Homo sapiens: one gene and its partners. The protein of the gene in region 1 purifies or fractionates together with the protein of each later gene. This does not show direct contact. Each region holds a gene or a part of one and is shown on either strand. Other genes may lie near its edges. The genes, in order: VIPR1, OSBPL5, ATP6AP2, ARFGEF3, SLC7A1, SC5D and MSMO1.

Region 1 (3,500 bases):
GGACAGGGTCCTTACCTCCCTGGGCCTCAGTTTCTCTGTAGGCTACGTGGGCCTCAACCACCTCCCCTGCCGACTTAGAGATTCTTGAAGTGGGTCCGTGGGAAGAACATAGGTGGGGGACCTTCCTTTAAGGGGGTCCCTCCTGGCCTGCAGGCACCAAAGTGCTTAGTACTTTGACCATTGTTTTAAGTAAATCAGCTCCATTTACTGGGATGTGCATCCCAGCTGGCAGCCAGCAATCCATTGCTGCGGAGGGAGAGGGGTCCAAGCTGAAGCTGAACAACTCAGTGCCTAAGAAGCTGCACAGCCAAGTCCTTTCCACCCCAAACAGCTCTCTCATTCCTGTTGAGGGCTCTCTGGTGGAGCCTCTGTCTCACAGGTCACCTGCAGGCCAACACTCCCAGAAGCAGCTAGCACCATGGTTGACCTCGTCCAGGTCCAGGGAAGGCCTCCCTCTCCAGGACTCCTTTAGATTTCCCCAGCATCCAGACCTCACCTGCCTAAGTGCTGTTGCCCTGGAAGCCACAGTGAGCACGAGCTCCATCTTGCACCTTTACCAGCCAATGGGGGTAAAGACATTAGCTGGTAAGTCATTTAAAACTTATTGAAAGTAACACAGTTGTGTGATGGAGCATGATACAGTTACTCGTATAACTGTTAAAAGATAGGAGACTTCAAGGAAACTGTCTGTGGTTCCTCTTTGGGGTCATGTGCTTTCTCTCCTTCCCATAAGGGTTACTCAGGCTGAAATGCTCAAGACACTCTGTCTCAAGGGATTTGTGGCTGTTTCATCCTCAAGTATAGGGGGAATAGTGGCCAGGAAGATCTCAGAGGTGGCTTCTGGAAGAGGAATCTGGGTACTGGCTACCCTGCCTTGTGTCCCATCATTGGTCTGTCTTGCCTGTCTTGGAGCACATTTCTCACCAAGGTACCATCCCAACCCCATCTCCCACCAGCAACAGGGTTCTTTCTGCTTTCTGGCCCCTTCCCAGCGTCTCCTGATTCTCCTGTCCATTCTTATCTCTCATAACACTGTAACGTCAAAACAGGATGGATGGTAGCAGATATCTCTTGTTTCTGCCTTCCACCATCCTTTACTCTCTTCTGGTGCCATGTCCTCATCTGTGTCTGGGAAACAACCTCCTTCCCTACCTCTAGTTCATGGAGTTCTGATGAACCCTCTTCCAGGGGATTGACATGTGACCAAGGCTTAAGTCCATCAGAGCATTCCTGGCCACAGTGCCTGACACATGGCCTGAGTCAGGCTACTCAGAGCCAGGAGGCTCACTCCTGGGACTTTGGATTAAGTGATTAAGAAAGTGAATTTGGTTTTTCCCCACTGGACTGGAAACCTTAAAGGAAGCAAGGGCTCAAGCTTCTGCTGTCTTCTTGTTGACAAGTGGAACACACGGATAAAAACTATACAGCTGAAGGCAGAATAGAGAGATGGAGAAAAATCAGGTTCTCTTAATATTGTCTGGGTCTGTGAATGCAGCCATGCCTGAAACCAGCTCTACTGCTAGCAACATGAGCTGATGCCTTTCCTTTATGGCTTGGATCAGTTGAGTTTTCTGTTGGTCGCTGTAAACAAAAGTGTCCAGCCTTGCCCTCTGAGGACAAGATAATGGACGCCCTCACTTTCTGGGCCTTCTTAAGCCAGGACTGTGGCCATATAGTTTGCCAAGAAATATTTGTTTCCCAATCACCATGGGCGCCTAGGATTTCTGGCAGCTTCTGCTTGCGACTCTCTGAGGGTAGAAGAGTGTTGGGTCAACTTCTCCAGCCAACTCTGCCCCCTCAGCAGCACAGACACACAGCCCTTCCTTAGAGGCAGTTTGGAGAGAAAGGAGGGGTGGGTACCGAAGCCTGTGGTGTTTATGAAACAGTGGGTGTGGTCTGGAAGATGAGCTCTCTCTTTGTCACAATTTAGTTTAGTGTTGAGCCCTATCTGGGGAGGGGTAGAGGAAATGGAGACCCAAAGAGGGACCTGAGGTCACCCAGCAAATGCGCATTCCCAGATGGGACCTAAGTCTCTGACCGCTGGTCTGGACTGCATCAATCCTTCAACACAGCCTCGCCTTGGACCCTCTGGTCAACCATTGCCCTTTGAGGGACCGGGCCAGGGCAGCTCCCTCTAGTCCTTATCACTAAGGAATTCAGGCAGACTTTGGACTTCCTCTCCCACTTATTTATTTCCCTATTCTAAACATCCTCATTATCCCTCTGGACTTCAGGAACACAGAGAGAGTTGAAAAATTCCCTGGCTGAATATAGCCAAGTCTACTGATGTCAGGGAAGTGTTCCAGGGTGGGATATAGCTGGAGTCTGGGCTTCCTACAGAATGGGTATGCTGTACTCATTCTGTAGAGGTAGGTCATGGAGGATGTGCAAGTTAGACAATTAGAAGTGGAGTAAGAGCACCCCAGAAAGTAGAGCAGCGTGTGCACAGGCATGGAGGCATGAAAATGCCTAATACATGCAAGGCTGTGAGAAGCCTGGTGTAGCTGCAGCAAGGAGTTCTGGGGGCATCAGGAGACAAGTTGAGAGATGTAGACTGGGGTAGGATTGGGAAGGGCCTGGAATGCCAGTTTTCAAGTGTGAGCTTTCACTCCTAGGCCATGGGGGCCAACAGAGACTTGAAGCAGGAGACTGAGGATGGGGGATACACATTTTACAAAGATCCCTCAGGTTGCAGGTGGTGGGGCTGAAAGCTACTGCACCAGTCCAGGCAGGAACTGATGAAGCCTGGGCAGGACAGTGGGTATAAAGAGAGGGCACAGAGAGGAGGGGGCAGGTGGAATGAACAAGACTTGGTTAGTCCCTGTCTCCAACTAGACTCAGGATTCTCCTGCCAACTCCCTGTCATTCACCTCCCACATCCCGCTAGCCCCATGGCAGAGGACAGAAGAAGACCAGGATGGAGAAGATGCTGTGGACTTCTTCAGTCTTCTTCAGCCTGGGTCCCTTCTGGGCTTAGGAACTCCTGCCCCAAAGAAGGTGCTGAGAGCCCAGCCTGGACCAAAACTCTCTAGCCTCAGCTCAACGGCAGGGTCAGGCTGCCTTTAAGCTTACTTTTTGGAGCTCAGTCAAGCATAGGAATTGGTGAGGGGCTAGAGAGAAAGCCCTGCTTTTTCCTGTCCATGTGGGGTTCTCTGAGATCTGGAGCAAAGGCTAGGTGTGGTGATGGGGGTATGGGTGAAGATGCTGGGAGTTGTAGCTGTTAGATGCAAGGGGCTCTGAAAGACAGGGTGGGCCATGCTCAGGTTCGTAGGCCATGTTCAATCCCCTCAAGGGAAGCCTGAGACCACAGCTACTGCCTCGAATCAGAAGCCCCAGCCTCATCATCTGGGGCCAGAGAACTAGGGCAGGAGGAGCCAAGTAGCACAGCAGGAAGCATGAGTCCCTCCGAGGAGAAGCTGGTCTCTGAGAGGAGCACAGAATGCAGCAGGCTGGATAAGGTGAGGCAGGAGAAAGAACTGTCTGCAAATTGCCAAGCATGC
Region 2 (3,500 bases), on another chromosome or scaffold:
ACATGTATCTGCCATTACCACATCTCACAGAATAGTTGCACTACCCTAAAAATCCCTTATGATTAGACGTGACTAGATGGAGCCACATATTCCTCAGTCCCTCCAGGCCCTGGCTTTTTCCGGAATGTCATGTAGTTGGAATCATACGGTGTGGAGCGTTTTCAGATTGGCGTCTTTCACTTGGCAATATGCACTTAAAGATTCCTCCACTAGGCATGATGGCTCATGCCTATAAATCCCTGCACTTTGGGAGGTAGAGTTGGGGGAATCACTTGAGCCCAAGAGTTCAAGACCAGCCTGGGCAACATGGCAAAACCCTGTCTCTACAAAAAGTACCAAAAAACTAGCCAGGCATGGTGGTGCACCTGTGGTCCCAGCCTTGGGAGGTTGAAGTGGGAGAATAACCTGAGCCCAGGGGGCAGAGGCTTTGAGGAGCCATCGTGGCACCAGTGCATGCCAGCCTGGGCTGGCGTGAGATCCCATCTCAAAAAAAAAAAAAAAATCTTTGCTGGGCTCAGTGGCTCACAACTGTAATCCCAGCACTTTGGGAGGTTGAGGCAAATGGATCACCTGAGGTCAGGAGTTTAAGACCAGCCTGACGAACATGGAGAATCTCCGTCTCTAATAAATATACAAAATTAGCCAGACATGGTGATGCATGCCTGTAATCCCAGCTACTCAGGAGGCTGAGGCAGGAGAATCACTTGAACCCGGGAGTTGAAGGATGCAGTGAGCTGAGATCATGTCATTGCACTCCAGCCTGGGCAACAAGAGCGAAACTCCATCTCCAAAAAAAAAAAAAAAAAAAAAAAAAATTCCTTCATGTCTTTTTATGGCTTGATAGCTCTGGATTTCTTTTTAATTTTTGCTGATTGAAGGTTTTTGTTTGTTTGAATTATTTGAACCTGAGGTTTCGTGGCTTTGATGAAGTCCAGAAAATTTTAGCCATTTTTTTTAAGTGCCTCACTCCTGATTTCTCCATTTTTCCTAGAACTCCAATGAGACAGAATTTGAACCATCTCCTCCTTTGCTTTGTCTCTCTTAATGTTTCCATCGTATCTCTTATCTCTTTGCATTCTAGATAACTTATGTAGATGTATCTTTAACTCTAATTAACTTGACGTGTAACTCATCCACTGAGTTTTCCATTTTGATATATTGTTTCCCAAGAAGTTCTACTTGGTTTCATTTCAAACCTGCCTGGTTTTTTTGTTTGTTTGTTTTTATTTTTGTTTTGAGACGAAGTTGGGGTTTCACTCTTGTTGCCCGGGCTGGAGTGCAATGGCATGATCTCAGCTCACTGCAACCTCCACCACCTGGGTTCAAGCAATTCTCCTGCCTCAGCCTCCTGAGTAGCTGGGACTACAGGCGCCCGCCACCACGCCCAGCAAATTTTTTGTATTTTTAGTAGAGATGGGGTTTCACCGTGTTGGCCAGGCTGGTCTCAAACTCCTGACCTCGGGTGATCCGCCTGCCTCGGCCTCCCAAAGTGCTGGGATTACAGGTGTGAGCCAGTGCGCTCGGCCTTGCCTGTTCTTTTTATACTCGTGCATTGTTCCTTGGTCATGTTTCCAATCCTTTCTCATAAATCTTTGAGCATTGTAATAAGCACAGTTGTTTTATCATCTCTAGCTGGTCACTCTCATATTCTGTTTTGTTTGCTGCTGTGTCCTCACTGACCATAGTGTTGCCCTTGAAGGTGCTCGATAATTATTCAAAGAATGGCTGTATTTAGTAAAACCTTGGGATTCTAATTTGCTAGTTTTGTGTTTGTTTGTTTTCGTTTTGTTGGCTGAAATTGTTTTGTTGGCTCTCACATTTTCTTAGTAGGTTGTTTCTGGGACACAGAGGAAGTATAGATTTGAATCCCAAACTTACCCTACACATTCATGGAGAGTTCTGGGGTTTCTTTTTAACCCCGGAGCGCAGGCCCAATACAAATGTTTCCTTGACTCTCCCTCTGGAATGAACGGCCTTTCTGCGACTGTTCCTTCTGTTGAGGGTGTAGCCATGTGAGAGTGCCTGCTTAGTGGAAATGTCTCGGAAAAAATCTCTCCTGGTTACTCTGACCCAAGGACCTGTCTACCACTTTCCACGGCAACCTCAGAAACCAAGATCTCAGATCGACAAATGCCCCTCTTTCTCTTCCCCCCTTTTCCTCTCCTCCTCCTCCCATCTTCCCCTTCTTTCCTCTCCTCCTCCTCCCATCTTCCCCCTCTTTCCTCTTCTCCTCCTTCCATCTTCCCCCTTTCCTCTCCTTCTCCTGTCTTCCCTCTTTCCTCTCCTCCCCCTCCCGTCTTCCCCCTCTTTCCTCTTCTCCTCCTCCCACCTTCCCCCTCTTTCCTCTTCTCCTCCTCCCATCTCCTCCCTCTTTCCTCTCCTCCTCCCGTCTTCTCCCCTTTATTTTTTCTTGTGGGAGAATTCCCATCTTTTCTTGCATGCTCATTGACTCATCCATGCTTCATATATTTTTTCAACTTTTTATTATGGCAAAGTTCAAACATATATCAAAGTACAGTACACCCCATATACCCACAGCACAGCAATGCACCCACCTTCATGCTCTCCCCTGAATTAATTGGAAGTAAATCCCAAATATCATGTCATGTCATTTGTGTATTTTATTTTATTTTATATCACTAAAGTTAAGGATTTCCCTTCTTTCTTTCTTTCTTTCTGTCTTTTTTTTTTTTTGACAGAGTCTTGCTGTGTTGCCCAGGCTAGAGTGCAATGGTGCAATCTCAGCTCACTGCAACCTCCGCCTCCTGAGTTCAAACGATTCTCCTGCCTCAGCCTCCCGAGTAGCTAGCATTACATGCGTGCGCCACCACACCTAGCTAATTTTTGTATTTTTAGTAGAGATAGGGTTTCACCATGTTGGCCAGGCTGGTCACAAACTCCTGCCCTCAGGTGATCAGCCTACCTCGGCCTCCCAAAGTGCTGGGATTACAGGCGTGAGCCCCCACGCCAGGCCGGGATTTCCCTTCTTAACCATAGCCACAATACTATCATCAGATGAAAAACAAACAAACAAACTCTTAGTTGTCATCGAGTCTACAATCTGGTTCATATCCCCAGCTGCCACGTGCCTGTGTCTTGATCCCCCACACACGTGACAGTTGGCCGTTTGGCTGGGTCTCTGCATCAGGCCATGCTCCGTGCATGGATGTCCTATGTTTACATCTCCTTGATGTCCCTCCCTCCTGTTTTTCCCTTGCAGAGTATTACTCATTTCCTCCTAGTCCCCTCTAGCATGGATTTTCCTGGCTGCATTCCTCTGCCCTGGGGATTTCCTATAAACCACGAATTGATTTGATCTCGAGATGCCTGATCACGTTCAGCACAGTTTTTTTCAACACGACGCTTAATGGGGGTTTTGTGTCTTTCCACAGCAGGGTGCACAGGGCCTGTTGTTCCTTGTGACATTAGTGGACATTGATTCTCAATGCCTGGATCCATTCATGTAAAAGGCATTGCTAGATGGTGACGTTCCATCCTCT
Region 3 (3,500 bases), on another chromosome or scaffold:
GGATCAGTTTATTCATGAGAGTCATAAGAAAATTACACTAAAGAAGAATCTACCCCAGCAGTAAATGTGCACAATCTTTCATTTTCTAAAATAGCAAAATTTCCAAAATTTCAAGTAGTATAAGGAATGGGAGGCCAGATGCAGTGGCTCAAGCCTGTGATCCCAGCACTTTGGGAGGCCAAGACAGGATTGCTTGAGGCCAGGAGTTCAAGACCAGCCTGGACAACAGAGTGAGACCCTGTCTCTATTTTTTAAAAAGACGGAAATTAATGATATTCATGTATTCATTGAATAACTGCACTTACTTCATTGTTCCTACTCAGAGAATTGAGGGGGAGTGAACTGAGAACAGAGTTTTCTTGAAACAGGCGATTACGGAGCTGGCGCAAGGTGACTGAAAGGTCTTCAAACACTGAGTTTGCCTTCCCTACCATATACACTCTCTGTAAGAAGAATAGAAAATTTTAAGTTGCTCAAATTCTACAGATTAGTTCCAATACCCAGAGGTATGACAACATTGTTCATAAATTAGTTTTATATTTTCATAATAAAATTACATTTCATAATTTTCAAATAATAAAAGCTTATTTTTTAAAATGTCTTGAATAAAACCCTTATCACTTACTTCCTCACTGGGAGCCAACTGCAAAACAACAGGAGTTTCCTCAGAAAATAAGGAGTGAATGGAATTTGCAACACTGTCAAGACTAAAAGGAACTGCCTGAAATTTAAGAGTAAGAACGCAATTATTATGTGAACCAAAGTGGGAAGAAAAATCATTCAGATGGTATTTAAAAAGAAGCCTTAAACTTTTTTCCAGCACTTTCTATGGAAATTTAGAAGCCCGAAATCATTTCCAAACAAGCCCTTTTGAGGGCACAGAAGATTAAACAGCCCCCTGGTAAGCCAAGTCTGTATCTCCCATCATGCCTCAGTGGAAAATAACTTAAACCTGATGGACACAACACTATATCTAGCACAAACCATTTTCTGGTGGTCATTCATGTATTTGAAGCAGCAATACATTTGGTTTCAATATTGACTAAATGTGCCACGATGAATGCATATTCCACAATAAAGTATTTAATTTGCATTTAAGAGGTTAGAGGAATCTGAGTATTGAATTTAATTGAAATAAAAATGGAATTCATCTTTCATTTCAAAATTTTAAAAATGTTTAATGAGATTTAACATTTGTCTTCAGATAGCCTAAAGACTCTTAGATAAGGTGTTAAGTATGTCACAAGGTTTTTGAAGCCTTTATCTTAGGACATGTTGATATTATTAGATTGAAATAACCAATGGTGATAAGACCTACTTTTTTCCTTCAATTTTTTTATTAAAGTGCAAAATACATATAATATAGTATACAAATCTTGGGGTAACAGCTCAACAAATGTTTACACATGCATGCACTCAGGTAGCCCAGCCAGATCGACACAGAACACTATCAGCGCCCTCGAAGTACTACCTCCACCCTCAAGGGTAACAAAAATTCTGACTTCTATCCCCATAGATTTGTTTTGCAGTACATGATTTAAAAAAATAAATTACAGTTATTTTTCCCCTAAAAAAATTATTTCATTCCCAGTATTACTGTATTAAAACAAGCAGTACAGTCATGTTTTTGTTTTAATGGAGATTTCTTACATTGATCTTTCATTCAGTAGTTCCCTTACTACTTAAAGATTCATGTTTACAAGTAGCAAAGTAACGCTAATATGATACAGGCAGAAATCAATGTGATTATGTCTTACTGATAAAATCCCAGCATCACATTTTTTTTTTTTTGAGACAGAGCCTCACTCTGTTGCCCAGGCTGGAGTACAGTGGCGCGATCTCGGCTCAGTGCAGCCTCCACCTCCCAGGTACAAGTGATTCTCCTGCCTCAGCCTCCTGAATAGCTGGGATTACAGGCACGCACCACCACGCCTGGCTAATTTTTGTATTTTTAGTAGAGACGGGGTTTCATCAAGTTGGCCATGCTAGTCTCAAACTCCTGGCCTGATGTGATCTGCCTGCCTTGGCCTCTCAAAGTGCTGGGATTACAGGCGTGAGCCACCATGCCCAGGCCCAGCATCAATATTAAGTGATCAATTTTATGATTCTGTGAAATGAAATAATTTTTTTCTCTTACTCAAGATGCTTATTAACTCTTCCCCAAATTCTCTCAAAATGAGTTAATGAGTAAGTGAAGAGGGGGAAGAGAGTTCAAAGTTGCAAAAGCATACTGCTAGCAGCCGCCCTGAATCATCTATAGGTGCTTTCCTTTAGCGATCATAGAGTTTACCTCCTCAGGCTGTGAGGGGAATACATGAGCAAATGATGCAAACTTTCCAGCCTCACTTCACTTAGTGAAATGGCGCTCGGTTCAGGAAAGTTGAAGATTAGGAACCATGTCCATAGCGATCAAATTGAAGCAGCTCATGAATCAAATGAACACCAATGAAGGAAAAGAAATAATTATATAGGCAGCTAAGCTCAAAAAGTAAAAAGCTTGGCTGCTTAATATCGAATGATGGTTTTTCTCTCACTGTATTGTAAGGGAGATGCATATCTGTCCTCAAATTTCTGTACCTGTATGACTTGAAATTCTAACTAAAACAGCTAGCTAATCAAATGGAAGCTTCGTTAAATGGAATTCTAAGATACTCTGATTTTTATGTTTTGTGGGGTTTGCCCCTGAATCTTTTATCTCATTTACCATCTTCTGCTAGGAAAAGCATTGAGCAGCCAACCAGGGCCAAGCAATAAAATGAGCTCCTCACACAGCACAGCTTCTTCTCATGTAAAATGAGGCTAGTCTGTTTTTAAATCTTTATTTTTGGATTACATGCTAATAAAAATCTCAAAATGGCATTTTGGATTTTTATAATTTTAAAGAAAATCTTCTGCAATGATTTTCACAGAAATCACATAAAAAATGACTTAAATGCTCCCTGTGAAATAATCTGCCTTTTGATCTGTATTGTTCCCTTCCTTCTACTTTATGTGTATTTACTCTGAAGTTCTTCCGCTTTCTTTAGCTCATTAATTTCCATTCTTAGACAACCTAAATTGTCTAAAACATGCATTTAAGGCTATAAATTTCCCTTTTCTTACCACGTTAGCTGCACCTCCCAATTTTGTAAATAAATGCTACATTCATTGTTACTCAGTTCCAAATAATTTAAAAAGTTCCACAGTGATTTCCTCCTCAACCCATGAATTATTTAGGAGTGCATCTATTCCAACTATCTTTTCTTGTTGACTTTTTTTGCTTTTAACATCTCTAAATAAGACACTTAAATTACATCTCCTGATTTTTCAATTTTAGGTCTTGTCTATTTACTATCCATTATAGAAAATGAGGCTTTAGCTCTCTCACATCACCAACCACTGCCCCATCCATGCGCTGAGCCATCCATGCGCTCTGCTTCTGTTTCTATCTCCCCACTCTTACCCAATAGTTATATCAAAATTTTCACTTGATCAGCATCATTTCATTATTATGACAATGC
Region 4 (3,500 bases), on another chromosome or scaffold:
CCAGATCATGAAAGTCCTTGTTGGGCTCTCTAAGGATGAGATGGGGAGTCATTTGGGGTGGAGGAAATGCTCTCATCTGGGTCTTGACAGGGTCTCTCAGGATACTGTGTTAAGCAGAGACTGCAGCTTCAGGGGCAAGCCCAAAAGCTAAAAGCCTAGAACAGAGGCTGGTACAGTCATCCAAGTGAGAGAAGGTGACAGCTTGGACCAAAGTGGCAGGACAGAGTCAGGGAAGATGTTGAGATTCTCCAAGCATTTCAAACTTATTATTCCCTCCACTCGGAGTGACCTCTCCTTATCTACTTTAAATAAATCATTTGTGGTCTCATTACCCCCAGCAGGAAGCCCTGACCTCACAGTCCACAGTAGGACCTCCTGTTCCACTTTTGCCTAATTCCCTGTATTTTCCTTCCTGGCGTTTATCATGCTTTGAAATGAGAATGTGCACTCCATGAATTCATGGATCGTGTCTGTTCTCACCACTGGGTCCCTAGCCCAGGACCTGGTTCAGTGTTTAGTGAGAGATCAAAGAAGGGAGACAGGAATTGGCACTGGCGTCTAAGGACTGTGTCAGGCCCTTTATGATCATGATCCTATCAGCTCCTCACAAGCATCCCGGGAGGAAGGTGTCATTGTCTTCTTTCTAAAGATGAGGGAACTGAAACTTACAGAGGATAAGTGACCTGCCCCCATCCCACAGTGTCACAAGCTGGAGTGGAGCTGGGAGTGGAACCTGGTTCTCTTTGCTTTCCTTCTTGATGCTTCCATGGTGCCCTCTCCCCAGCTACCATTCTGTCCTGGGTGCTTACAGCAAAGCTGCAGGCCATTTTCTCCTTGACCTTTGGATGCTCTTCGCCTTGGGTTCCACACTGATCCCATGTGCCTGGGAGTCTCACTGCACTTAGAGCTGTAGTTTCATGGTGGCTGCTGTGTGACAGCCTTTTCTCTTTTCCTTTTCTTCTAGCTTGCTCTTAGCCTTATAGAGCTGGGCACTGTTACCCAGCCTTGGTTGACTATATATCCCTCTGTCCTGCGGGAAAACCATGCTGATCTGGTTGTTCACTGTCACTGCCTTTCCTTGGGGAGCAGCATCGGCTCATCCTGGGTGCCAGTCCCTGCTGTGCTAACTGGTGGGCTGCACTGGCCTGTGTGGCCTTTGAGCTGCTTCCTGTACCTGCATCTCAGGGCTTCCCTTTCTTGTCATCCTGTCTCATCTTAAGCATTGACTTCAGTCCTTCATCTTCCTCCATTGGCCTTGTCTTCACAGAACCAAGAACCCTGCTGAACTCATCTTTCTGTTTTGCTGATTAATTGTCTTTCTGAAATCCACTCTTTTGCCCCACTGGCCATATCAAGCCCAGATCCTATCAGGCCTGTTCTTAGCCTTGAGTCTCTGATATATGTATATATTTCACATTTGTTATTCTCTCTGATCTCTGAGCAAGGTGGGAAGAGACATTTCTCCTTCCCCAATGAAAATAGTTCAGATAGACAGGGCTTGTTGACTCCAAGGAGTGAAGAAAGGGGTCAACACAATTTCAGCTGCAAGACTGGAGACAAGTTGGAAGGATTGAAGTAGTACAGTTTTTTGGGGAAGAGACTGGTGAGCTTTTCATTATCTCTAAAATTGGAGGCAGCAATAGTGTGAAAAATCCACAAACAATGGCAAAGTATTGAACATCCAGGTTGGATTAACAAGATTTGGATGTGAGCCTTCCAATCAATATCCTAACTATACTGTAATTTTTTAAAAAAAGTTTAATCTACTGTGTCACAAATGTGTATGAGAATAATAAGATGTTGTGTAAGTGCTTTGTGAACTTGAAAGTCTTTCACAAGTATGAATTATTGTGTAAGGATATTGAAACAGTATTTTCAAGGAAACAGCTTTTCTTTATTTTTATTACAAGAATATTGTATCTTAGTTGTAACTAGATTCAGTGGTTCAGACTAGGAATTTAACTATTCGTTCTTTATCTGTTTAGGGAAATGTGCCCTAACTTTTAACTTTCCCCTCCTAGTTTGCAAGGTCCAGGGAAATCTCTGGGGCTCTCAAGGGAAAAGGATTTTAAAATATGAAGGACTTGCATGCAGATAGTTGAGAATTGACTAGTTTATAATTAGAGGAATTCCTGAAAAGAGAAACTAACAGAGAAATTCATGTACAATGTATATTCTCAGTGTTTAAATATTTATTTTAACTTTGTAATTTTTCTTTTGCAGAAACTCTAGGTGGTCTGGATACCATTGTCAAGATCCCTCCACATGTACTGAGGTAGGAGATGGACATTGTATAATATCACAGAAGTCAATATTACCCACTGAAGGCCCAGATAACCACATTGGTTTACAGTGTGTCTTAGTTTGTTTTGTGCTGCTATAACAGAATACTACAGACTGGGTGATTTATAATGAACAGAGATTTATTAGTTCATGGTTCTGGAGGCTGAGAAGTCCAAGATCAAGGGGCCACATCTAGCAAGGGCCTTCTTGCTGCGTCATCCCAAAGGTAGAAGGACAAAAAGAGGGTGGAACAGAGAAGAGAGAAGGGGACTGAATGCACCCTTTTCTAACAAAGCCCCACTCCTGTGATAACAGCATTCATCCATTCATGGAGCAGAGCCCTCATGGCCAGATCACCTCTCATTAGGCCTGACCTCCCAATACTGTTGCATTGGGGATTACGTTTCCAACACTTACTTTTGGTGGGGACACGTTCATATGATAGCATAGCATTTTACTTGCTGACTAAAGGCTTTCTTGCACCCATGAGCTGGGATATTTCATGAGGTTACCATGATGTGAACCTGATTGCATTCGCTCCCCCTGTCTGTAGAGGGAATGAAATCAGTGACCTAAAGGAACCAGCCATGGAAGTCCATGGTAAAAGGATCAAATTGGTCAAGGAGAGACATGATCAAAACTTATGTGAAGGAGTAGAAAGAAAATTGCACTCCCTCTGATGGGCATGCACCCCTACACTAGGTAGTGTGGATTTAAGCTCTGATTGGCAACCCTGGCTGGACATCATCTGACTGGTTGTGAAGTCCACAGCCACATGTAGCAGCCCAGAGATAGGAAGCCTATTTCCCCACCTTCTTCCCCTCCCACTATAACTTCCCCCAACCCTCACTGGGAGAGAAATGCCTGCCTCTGTAGAAAAATTGGAAAGAACAATACAACAAAAAAGAAAGTTGTCCATAACTACATCACCTAAGGATAACCACTGATAACAGTTTAATAGATTTTCTTAAATGTCTTTTTCTATACACATATATTTTTATAAATTAATATAAAATTTTATTCACGACTTTGTTGCCTGCTTGATTTTTTTTTACTCAAAACCATATGAAGAATATTTTCTAATGCCAGTATATGTTCTTCAAATTAAAATGTTACATATACTTCCATTATATGGCTGTAGCATAATTCATTTAGCAGTTTTCCTATTGTTTAATAACACTTGGGCTGTTTCCAGGGTTTTCTTTGAGATTATAAAG
Region 5 (3,500 bases), on another chromosome or scaffold:
GAATGCACTTCACATCCTACCCAATATACACAGGTGTATTCTATCAAATATATATATCCGAATAAAAAGTTCGCAAAACGAGTGTTACCCTTACCACCTGAGAGGCACTCTGATAATATTTAATGCTACCTACTTTGTTTCATTAAAAAAAGTAAACATTGATGACAACTCATGAAAAATTGATTTCATAATGCACTCCTGGGGTGCAGCTGGCAGTCTGGAGGAATGCTGCTTAGGAAGCCTCTTTTCTAGGAACCCCTTGGCTGCAGAGATGATGGTGCCTGCACCATAATTCTTCTCTCAGCAAGAAGAGGGGCCCTAGGAAGTCCTTGAAGGGGCTGAACTCCATCTCAGGGACAAAGCCACTTGCTCATCTCAGTGTTGGCATCAGCCACCTCTGCCACTTTTTGCCTGAACCTGATTCGGAGGCCACAGCATCCCCAGAGTGCAGGACAGCAGACAGACCCCAGCCCTCCTCGTTCTCCCCTCAGCCTGCACCCTCCGGTGCCGAAGAACACCAACAGGGCAGCACTCAAAATGCCAACAATAGTTGGCTGCTGTCTTTCACTCTCATTCTCTCCTCTCACATAATTCTAAAGGGTGTCAGAATGTGTTTCCATTGGTGTTTCTCAGGAAATGTCACTAAAATTCCAGCATTTTCATAGAGCGTTTTCCTTTATTTTCAAAGCGGGCCTTGTCGGTGACCATGGTCCTAATTATCCACAGCATATTGCCACAGTGATCTGCAGAGATTCAATTTCACTATTTGGTCTTATGATAAGTAAGTATCTTTCCAACAACTCAGAAGTTTAACCACATTTCTTCCTCCTAAGCAGCCAATCTATTATGAATTCTGTAAAAATGGTCTCACCATCTCCCTGTCACCCCCAAAGCAGCTGGCTTATGGCAAACGTGGCTCCCAAACCCTGTCCTGCTCAGTGACAGGGGCTACCCCAGCCTTTCTTCCCAGCCTATCCACTCCCAATTTCTGAATTATGCCTTTTAAAAAAATGTTTGCTGGAAAAACTGCCCTTCCCAGCAGCTAAGGCTGAGAACACATTTTTATAATGCATGCAAATGGTTTCACACAAGCAAACGGCACTCTCGCAGAGCCTTACATTTGTTGGTCTAGAAGCTGCAAGCATTTCATGCTCAATGTATATTTTATGCTCAGGTAAATCCTCTGGAAACATAACGGTCCATTTACAATAGCTACATTCCCAGTGAGAGACTTCAGCTTGTGAGAACCATGTGTGGTTGTTAAGTTTTGATGTGGCATTGAAAGAAAACATTGTGAATTTTATTTTAGAACCCAGAAGACTAAGCTATGTTGGCTCTCAGCAGATACTGCAGCTGCTGGAAAGAAAGAGAAGGTGCTGCTCGGAGAATGTGAGTGTGTGCCCTCCCCCAGCTGTCCTGGTGAAGGGGGAGTGATGCCCCCCATGCAGAGATAGGGCTGTGGGGAGCCCAGGGCTGCGAGGATCCCAGCAGGCAGCATGTGTGGCCAGGGAGGGTGTGGTGGGGTCCAGTGGGAGCTGACACAGAAGCAAGGCGGAACCCACATGGCTCAACTTAACAGGTCTTACTGTTTTTTCGCTATTACCAAAAAGTTTGAGAAAAAAAAAAATAAATGGCATGTTGAGTGGCCGTTTGTACCCTTTGCTTCTGAGACTTAGGTTTTTGTTTCTTTTAAGTTGATGTGTTCAACTTCAGTTGTAATCAAAATACAAAAAAGCATAAAGAGAAGCAAAGCGTGTTTACCTGGCAAACCGGAAAGATTTTCTACATTTGCTTCCTTATTTGCTGGGTGGATGTGTTACAGGCCGATGCCCAGTGCCCACACTGCAGGGAAAGGGGCCCCTGGCTACGTGGAGGATCACAGTCAACAAAGGCCTTAAAAACACGCAGACCCACTGACAGCCATTCTGCTCCTTAGACAGTTTTAAGGAAAAGAATCATGGCTAAGCCCAAAGACATAAAGTAATTAACTGTTAATAACAACAGCAACAACATAATGGAAACAATCTGAACATCCCATAAAGACACCAATACATTACGCTGTGTATATAAATCTATACAATGGTAGGCAAGCATTAGAAATGTTACTGTGGAAAAATAGCTAATGATATGAGAAATGTTTACTATATATTGTTTTATAAAGAGATACACTGTAGAAAAATACACATTTAAATTCACAAAAATGTTAACCATAGTTGTATCTGTAGACAGTAAACTTCTGAACACAGAGTGTCTTATGCCTTCATGGGATCCCTAGTATCTAGCACAATGCCCAGCCCAGAGCAGGTACTCAATGAACATTTATTAAAAGAATGAATGAATGAATGAGAGAATTAGTTTCTCCATGTTGTCAGGCAGGGTATTTCTACTTTCTTCTTCATGCTTTTCTTTATTTTCCCAATTTTTCTCTATCAGTGATGCATTTACTCTAGTAATTTAAAAACCTACTAAAAGAAACTAAATACCTCTAAATGAATCAGAAACATCCTATTAATTCTGTGCCTCTCGTGTTAACAAGAATGACCTCCCTGTGGGGCATCCACCCACACTTTGGAGGTGGGAACAAACAGAAAAGTGGTAGAGGGCACGAGCTCCGGACCCCTGGGACCTACCGATGATGTAGGAGAGGATTAAGTTCCAGCCGGTGATGAAGGCCCAGAGCTCTCCAACGGTGACATAGCTGTAGAGGTAAGCTGAGCCCGTCTTGGGGACCCGAGCACCAAACTCGCCATAGCACAGGCCAGCCAGCACTGAGGCCAGCGCAGCGATCAGGAAGGAGATGACAATGGCAGGGCCTGCATTCTCACGGGCCACAGCTCCAGCCAGGACGTAGACACCAGCACCCAGTGTGCTGCCCACCCCGAGGGCCACCAGATCAAAAGTGTTCAGGCAGCGAGACAGCCGCGTCTCCTCCCGGCTACAGTCCACCACCTTCCGCCGCAGCATCTGCTGCCCAATGTTGAGCAGGACTTTGCACCCCATGTTGCTGTTCAGAGCTGTTGAAAAAGAACAAAGATGTTTCCTGATTGCTCCTCATTTCACCCATTACTCTAATCTTATCACATTATGGAAACACAGACAGTGATCAGGTCCTTCATAATCATTTCCTGCTAAAACGCTTTAATTCGTAGAATTCCACCATCAATTGTCAGAAGCACGCAGACTTCTCCAGTTTCACCAGCACATACAGAATTAACCCAGCAGGCCAACAGATACAGATGACTTCATTTCGAGGTCTCTGAGCTTCCACATTTGTAGCAGGTCCTCTTAATGGAGACTCTTCCATGGGTGGAAATTATGCAGTAGAGGAAACACACATTAATGACATTGTTCCTACACTCAGTCATCAGATAATACACCAGGAAAAACAAGGTGTTAGTTCAAGTATGCTGTAATAGAAAGCAAACCAAACCATATCTTAATTTCATTACTAAATTAAATTATTAAATTATTAAAACTCAGAGGCCCTGAATGGCAATAAC
Region 6 (3,500 bases), on another chromosome or scaffold:
GCCCATGACCAATGTCTAATTCCAACCTGATAGGCCCTTCTCTTTAAGATTCTCAAGCAATCAGATGTAATGAACATTTATTGCGTGTATGTATACATATACATGCACAAGTATTTAACTTTGATTTTATATATATTTGAAAGTTTACTGAATTTTTCTTTTAAAAAGAGAATACATTGTTTATTGTCTGTACCAGTCTATTTTCCATTTGTCATTTGTTACTCCATACATAATTACATAAATTGTTAATATACAAATGAATTATAATACCATTTACAGTATGTACTTATCCCACTTAATGTGAATATTCACATTTTCTAAACAAATATTTGATATGAGCTGGTCATGGTGACTCATGCCTGTAATCCTAGCACTTTGGGAGGCTGAGGTGGGTGGATTGCTTGAGTCCAGGAGTTTGAGACCAGCCTGGGCAATATAATGAGCCCTTGTCCATACAAAAAAATTTTTTCTTAATTGACTGGGCATGGTGGTGCCCACCTGTAGTACCAGCTCCTCAGGAGGCTGAGTCAGAAGGATCACTTGAGCCCGGGAGGCAGAGGTTGCAGTGAGCTGAGATTACACTACTGCACTCCAGCCTGAATGACAGAGCAAGACCTTGTCTCTAAATGAATAAATAAATAATAAAAAAGAACCAAAACCCCCAAATATTTGATTTATTTAATGACAGGGAGAAGTTTTGACCTTTGCAAAATGTATTTATAGGAATTTTGAATTCCGAAATAACATCTGATGCCAAATGTTTTAAGTAAGAATGGTAGTAGACCTGTATTATAAAAAAGGAGATGGTGACTTCCAAAACAGCAGAGTAAGAATCTCTGAAAATCTCTTCTTTATAAAAAGCAACAAAACACTGACAGAAGTTGTCAGAATCAGCTTTTTTAGAGCTCTAGGAATTAAAACTTTATGAGTTAAAGCTTTACAATAATCTTAGCAGCCTTTATTTGAGAAAAGTAGTTGAATCTCAGTAAGAACAATGAGCTTTGGACATTTTCCGTCCTTTACCATCTCCCTTTTGCTGACTTCATGGTAGCCTTGAAAACTAAGCCTTACAACACAGTAACTATGAAAAACAGCAGCCTGGATGGAAGGTACAGAATAGGTTTGCAGCCTCACCAAAGGCCACAACCCAGAAAATCATCACCACTTGATCTCTCTGGCAATTCTCAAGGCTTGTGTTTATATGACCTGTCTTAGAGCTTGTTCAATATCATCCTGTCCCAGGGTGTTTTGTCAAGGAGAGTCATTATTTACACATAACAGGTCTTAGAGGCACTATTATCAGCTGGCACTAACAAAAGCCTGACCAAAAATACTTAAAAGGGAATACTGAGAAATGAGATATCCCTAGGGGGCTTTGAAAAGCTCTGTTTTCCTGAGAATCTAGAATGATTCCCATGAGCAGGGCTGTTGCACATACCCAAGAAAGGGGAGAAGGCCCTAATTTCCCCTTTGGCTGACCTTGAGGGTTTACGCAAGCAGTAAGTTCAGGCCAGTCAATTTTAGAGTGACAACTAAAGTATTGAAAGCATGGCCCAACACAGCACCTTGGCAAAGGCTGGGGGACTTAACTGGTTCAAAGCACTTAAGAAAATCACTCCAGTCATTAGTAAGAGACTTGTAGCTGCACACAACAAATAAAACAGGTATGTAATTAGTTCAGAGAATTACTTAACGCACAGCAACAACAAAAGCAACTTAAAGCCCTGGGGCAGGGTGGGCGGTGGTGCATACAATCTGATTTCAAGAGTTACCCCATCATATTACTTAAAATATCCCATTTTCCATAAAAAATTAAAAAACACAAACAGGAAAGTATGGCCTGTACACACAAAAAGGCAATCAGTCAGTAGAAACTCTCTCTCAGAAAGCCCAGATGTTGGACTTACAAGGCAAAGACTCTAAATCAGCTACTACAAATATAAAAGAACTAAGGAACACCACGTTTAACTAACTAAAAGGAAGTATTAGAACAGTTTCTTCCCAAGTAGAGAATATCAATAAAGTGATAAAAGTTTTTTTTTTTTTTTTTTAAAGAACCAAATGGAAACGCAGGTGTTGAAAAGTACAGTGACTGAAACTGTCTTGCTTAACAGCAGATTTGAGCCAACAGAGCACAGAACTGGAAGATAGGTCAATTGAGATTAAACAGCTGGGAAGAGAAAGAAAATGAAGAAATACAAACAGAGACTTGGGGACACTGTCATGCATTTCCACATAAGCATAATGAGAGTCCTAAAAGGAGAAGAGAGAAAGTCATAGAAAGTTTAAGAAAGAGTGGCCCCAGACTCACCAAATTTGATGAAAAACTTTACACATCCTAGAAGTTCAACAGTATAGGGTTGGGGTTTATTTTTGGGGTGCTGAAAATGTTCTGAAACTTGATAGTGGTAATGATTGCATAGCTCTGAGAATGCTAAAAAACTAGTCAATCATATACTTTAGTGAATTTTATGGTATGTGAATTATATCTCAATAAACCTGTTTCTTTAAAAACAAAAAAAGGAGGAGCATGATATTTATGTAGGGATGGAAAGATCTCCAAGATATATATTCAATTAAGAAAAAGGAACTTCATGGTGTATATAGTATGCCATGTTTTGTAAGGAGGGAGAGAAAAATTTGTCATCATTCCATCTTACATTAACAAACACCGTAAGGATTCTCAGGAAACTAATAGATATGGTCACCCAGAGAGGTGGAAATGAAATGACGGTGTGGTTTACAGTGACATGGATGGAAGCAAGGCTTTGCATTGTATGTCTTTTCCTGTCAGTTTCTCATTTTCTTAAATCCCTGTGGGAATTTAGTGGAGAAATCTCATAGGGAATCTAGTGAAGGAAATAGGCTACAAAGAAGTAAATAAGTATTTTCAGAATTTTCCTTACCTGTGGGCTATTTTGTTTCATGAATTGATGTTTATTAACGTGGCCCAATATGTAGGAGATAAAGGCCGTTTGAACACCTGAAATCTATTGTGGGTAGGCAATTTGCAGATTGGCTTCTTGTTCAAAAATTTCAGTTCAAGTGAGAGACATTTTAGATGCTGAACACGTTTTCTTGTGCGAACAATGCAATGAGGGATGAGTGAGTCGATCATAAATGATAGATTCCATAGTCAGATCACAAAAGCTGACCACAATATCACCGAACTGTATTGTAACAGGACCATGAGTATAGAATGGACTTAAATATGTACTGAACTGACTAATGTTTTTTAGAGTTTAAGCATCTGAAACAGGAGTTGGCAAACTATCTGTAAATGGCCAGGTAGTAAATGCCTTCGGTTCAACGGGCCATACTGTCTCTGTTGCAGTGATACTATAAGCCCACCTTTGTAGCAGAAAAGCAGCCACAGACAGTATGTAAACATCTGGGTGTCGCTGTGTTCCATAAAGATTTTTACAAAGCAGGCTCTGAGTTTGGCCCGTGGGCTGCAATTTACCAACTCCCGATCTGGAATATTGATTAGAGGTAGAGAA
Region 7 (3,500 bases), on another chromosome or scaffold:
CTAAGACTCAGGAATCTTTGCCTTCTAAATTCTTGACAACTACTATCACTACTTCAGGTGAAGAAACTGTTAACAGATGCGCCTAGCCATGATGATCTCAAACAAACTAAGAAACACTATGGAATGAATAATTCTCCAGTCTTTGCTGCCACAGATCATTCACTTCACTTCTTTTACCAGAAGTTTCAGAGAAGAAGAAATATAATATGCTAAGATTACTGTTGGGTGTCCACAATTGAAGAAGTTGTATACGAAGCATTGGAAGCCTTTTACACAGTAAGTCGATGCTTCCAGGCACTCAGTGGTATTCATTCCAACAAATAAATGCACTTTTGTTCAAATCCAATGACAGAATTATAAACTCTCTGAGTTGAGAAGTACACAGATATGTCCTGATTATGGAGTTCACAGATTCAAGTCAAAATGAGAAAAGTTAGATCAACATGGGATGTTCGTTAAGACCTCATCAGGATACCCATTTGCTTAGCAAGTCATTATAAAAAACAAAGCAAAACAAAACAAACACTAACTAAATGTATTCAATTTATAGGACTGCACTTAAAAAAGTGCTTTGGGCTTAACAAAACGATGGTGACAATAAATATCAGTTATTGCTTTGTTTTAAATGTCACTGCTGAAAAATTCAGGTATCCGCCAACAAAACTCTTTTAATTGAACCACGATATCCAAAGTACGGGAACTACTGCGCATCAGCAGAAGCCCAAAGAGGTCAACCAGCTTGGGCAGGGTCACACACGCAGTTATTAGCAGAAGTTGGACTAACTAAAATCTAGGTCTCCAGATCCAGCTCTGTTCTTGAAATTCTTTAAGGGTTATCTTCCTGACAAAAATAGGAAAAGCACTGAACTAAGAATCAATCCAGAGACTTGTGCTCTAATACCAGGGCTGCTACTCACCAGTTAACTAGCTCTTGTGATGTTTACAACTCAGTTTCTTCAACAATAAAATGGGAGGATCTGACAGCTGCCTTTGTATTTCTAATCTGAGCATTATCTAACCCCACTCCTCTAAACCTCCACTCTGTAATTGGGGACAAAATAAATGAAGGATTCAGGCTTCAGTTGGCAATAGTACTGTCTCCTACAGCAACTATGGTTAATAGACTTAATTTTCCAGGTAGACTGGGATATCGATGCAGTTACAGAAATTACAAAGTTAATCAACTATAATAAAATCACATGCTATACCATTTACAGTATACATAAATTAGTTACAAAGACAGTTAGCAATACAAATTCATACCTAGTGCAATATGAAAGTTTACCATATTTTACTTTCTTTATGCATAACTGTACTTAATATAAAGGAATACCTTTACAAGGGCCACAAACTTCAGAAATAATATTTTTAGTACATTTATCTTTGAGGAAAATTTTTGGAGAATTACTAAGATGTATGTTTTTTTTTTTTTTAAAGAAATAGATCCTGCAAAGTCTGCTTTACTTTTTCATTCCTGTGAAATTTTCGCCTAACTAGCAAGGATGTGCATTAGCTCTCCAGTTGTCTGTTCTGTTTGAAAGCAGAAAGTCTTTAGTACTATTTCATCACCACCACCAACTTCTTCTATTCTTTTCGACAATTTTAAGAATAAAAACATTTATTGCATATGTTAAATATAATTCTCAAATATTTTATCTTAAACAATTGATACCCTCAATGTTAATCAGGGTATCTGCCTTCGAAATGCATAAACCTGTAATTAATTTGTACCAATATTTTGGTTTCTTTTAAAACTCCTTTAACTTGTGAAAACTAGTCCTGGTTTAAAATCACATTTTTTATCAAAAATGCTCAAAGCATGGACTTTAATGGTTATGAAACATAAAGACTTGCTGAGTACAGACTTGAAGTCAAATTATCCAGCCTTACAATCTGTTCATAAACAACTAGCTCTGACCAACTAGACTACAGCTTATTCTTTCCTTTGCCACATTATATTTTAAAGCTGCTCATATACCCTTGCCTGAGAAAGTCCTTTGTCTCTCTGCAAAGGTTACTACTTCTAACCAGTGAGTCAGTTACAAACTGCAGTGAAGGAGAAAAAGGATGCTTTTGCCTGGCCAGCCATACAATGAATTACAATGAATAAGCCCTATAAATAAATCACTGGGTGAAACACGGCAGCCACAATCACCCTAAAGGTGCATTAGAACTTAGACGTCCAAACTTAATTCTGCCTTTCAAAGCAGCTGCTTTCCTAAAAAGCACTTTGGAGCTTCTGTGACCTTAATTGAGGGTCACAGAGTACTCTCCTTTGGCCCTCCTATTTTTTATTTCCTTCGCCTTTACCCTTTGCTCTTTTCTCCTTTGGCCTGGAGTCCACAGTCATCTGACCCCTGCATTATCCCCAGAGAGGACTAATATTAATACCTGCTTAAAGTGAGACTCTGGGAGAGGCTGTGAAACTAACAGAATGATAACAGAGAATGTGTACAGACTGCCATCCAAAATATATACAGTTGTCCTTTGGTATCTTTTGAGGATTGGTTCTGGGACTTTCTGCAAATACCAAGATCTGAAGATGCTCAAGTGCCTGATATAAAATGACATAGTATTTGACATAACCTACACGAATCCTCTCGTATACTTTAAATCATCTCTACAGCACTTATAATACTTAATAAAATGCAAATGCTCTATAAATAGTTGTCATTTTGAATAATGACAAGGAAAAAAAAGACTGTACATGTTCAGTGTAGACACAATTTTTTTCCCCTGAATATTTCTGATCTGCAGTTGGTTGGATCCATGGATACAACAACCCATGGATATGGAGGGCCAATTGTACTAAGTGAATGTAAATTACTTTCCATAGATGAATACTCTCAATGGTCTACTTTCTACCAAGACTGTGTGCCCCTGAGTTTTAGTTTGGAATGACTTTTTATGAAAAGTAAACAGCAAACACTAGAAACTATCATCAGCTTACAAATTCTAACAAATAATTCATCTTTCTAATAAGCTACTCCAAATTCTCACGTCAAGCTCACAGGCTACATATGAGATTTCACCTTGTCATGTACATAGCGACCTCTCAACATTTAGTGCAATGAAGCAAATATCCAGAAACGAGGAGCATCACCTCCTTATTTGGGATGATACGAATGCTGCAGAACTACCTACCATATATTTAGGGAAAAAAAACTTGAATAGCCCTGATCAAGGTCGTAGTGTATTAACAGTCCCTTAGATTTACTGGAACATAGAGTTGGGGTGAACTGCAAAATATGCGCAAATCACCACACCTTTCCTTTCCAGCTAGCTTAAACATTAAAATTCATAAACTTAAGTTAGATAACCATCACATCTACTTAAAGCCCAATTTAACAAAGTATTCTTGAAATGTTATCAATAATGACCTAGGACTGTGTTGCTCAATTCAGGAGCAACTAGTAACATGTGGCTTCCAAACACTTTAAACATGGCTAGTCTAAATTGAGATAGACTAAAATTAATGTAAAATACACACGGAATTGCAA

The links.
Region 2: the proteins of VIPR1 (region 1) and OSBPL5 purify together in Homo sapiens (co-immunoprecipitation; 2 studies listed by BioGRID and IntAct, with this or other methods). This does not show direct contact.
Region 3: the proteins of VIPR1 (region 1) and ATP6AP2 purify together in Homo sapiens (affinity purification with mass spectrometry; one large-scale study listed by BioGRID and IntAct). This does not show direct contact.
Region 4: the proteins of VIPR1 (region 1) and ARFGEF3 purify together in Homo sapiens (affinity purification with mass spectrometry; 2 studies listed by BioGRID and IntAct, with this or other methods). This does not show direct contact.
Region 5: the proteins of VIPR1 (region 1) and SLC7A1 purify together in Homo sapiens (affinity purification with mass spectrometry; one large-scale study listed by BioGRID and IntAct). This does not show direct contact.
Region 6: the proteins of VIPR1 (region 1) and SC5D purify together in Homo sapiens (affinity purification with mass spectrometry; 2 studies listed by BioGRID and IntAct, with this or other methods). This does not show direct contact.
Region 7: the proteins of VIPR1 (region 1) and MSMO1 purify together in Homo sapiens (co-immunoprecipitation; 2 studies listed by BioGRID and IntAct, with this or other methods). This does not show direct contact.

Annotation. Positions count from the first base shown.
Region 1 is NC_000003.12:42,509,143-42,512,642, reverse strand, and holds part of VIPR1 (vasoactive intestinal polypeptide receptor 1 isoform 1 precursor), read right to left. Parts: intron 1-3,500. UniProt on the Homo sapiens protein: G protein-coupled receptor activated by the neuropeptides vasoactive intestinal peptide (VIP) and pituitary adenylate cyclase-activating polypeptide (ADCYAP1/PACAP).
Region 2 is NC_000011.10:3,095,811-3,099,310, reverse strand, and holds part of OSBPL5 (oxysterol-binding protein-related protein 5), read left to right. Parts: intron 1-3,500. UniProt on the Homo sapiens protein: Lipid transporter involved in lipid countertransport between the endoplasmic reticulum and the plasma membrane: specifically exchanges phosphatidylserine with phosphatidylinositol 4-phosphate (PI4P), delivering phosphatidylserine to the plasma membrane in exchange for PI4P, which is degraded by the SAC1/SACM1L phosphatase in the endoplasmic reticulum.
Region 3 is NC_000023.11:40,594,470-40,597,969, reverse strand, and holds part of ATP6AP2 (renin receptor precursor), read right to left. Parts: intron 722-3,500; coding exon 626-721; intron 444-625; coding exon 306-443; intron 1-305. UniProt on the Homo sapiens protein: Multifunctional protein which functions as a renin, prorenin cellular receptor and is involved in the assembly of the lysosomal proton-transporting V-type ATPase (V-ATPase) and the acidification of the endo-lysosomal system.
Region 4 is NC_000006.12:138,168,439-138,171,938, forward strand, and holds part of ARFGEF3 (brefeldin A-inhibited guanine nucleotide-exchange protein 3), read left to right. Parts: intron 1-2,223; coding exon 2,224-2,275; intron 2,276-3,500. UniProt on the Homo sapiens protein: Participates in the regulation of systemic glucose homeostasis, where it negatively regulates insulin granule biogenesis in pancreatic islet beta cells. Also regulates glucagon granule production in pancreatic alpha cells.
Region 5 is NC_000013.11:29,533,189-29,536,688, forward strand, and holds part of SLC7A1 (high affinity cationic amino acid transporter 1), read right to left. Parts: intron 3,015-3,500; 5' UTR 3,001-3,014; coding exon 2,631-3,000; intron 1-2,630. UniProt on the Homo sapiens protein: High-affinity, low capacity permease involved in the transport of the cationic amino acids (arginine, lysine and ornithine) in non-hepatic tissues.
Region 6 is NC_000011.10:121,299,271-121,302,770, forward strand, and holds part of SC5D (lathosterol oxidase), read left to right. Parts: intron 1-3,500. UniProt on the Homo sapiens protein: Catalyzes the penultimate step of the biosynthesis of cholesterol, the dehydrogenation of lathosterol into 7-dehydrocholesterol (7-DHC).
Region 7 is NC_000004.12:165,334,169-165,337,668, reverse strand, and holds part of MSMO1 (methylsterol monooxygenase 1), read right to left. Parts: intron 1-3,500. UniProt on the Homo sapiens protein: Catalyzes the three-step monooxygenation required for the demethylation of 4,4-dimethyl and 4alpha-methylsterols, which can be subsequently metabolized to cholesterol.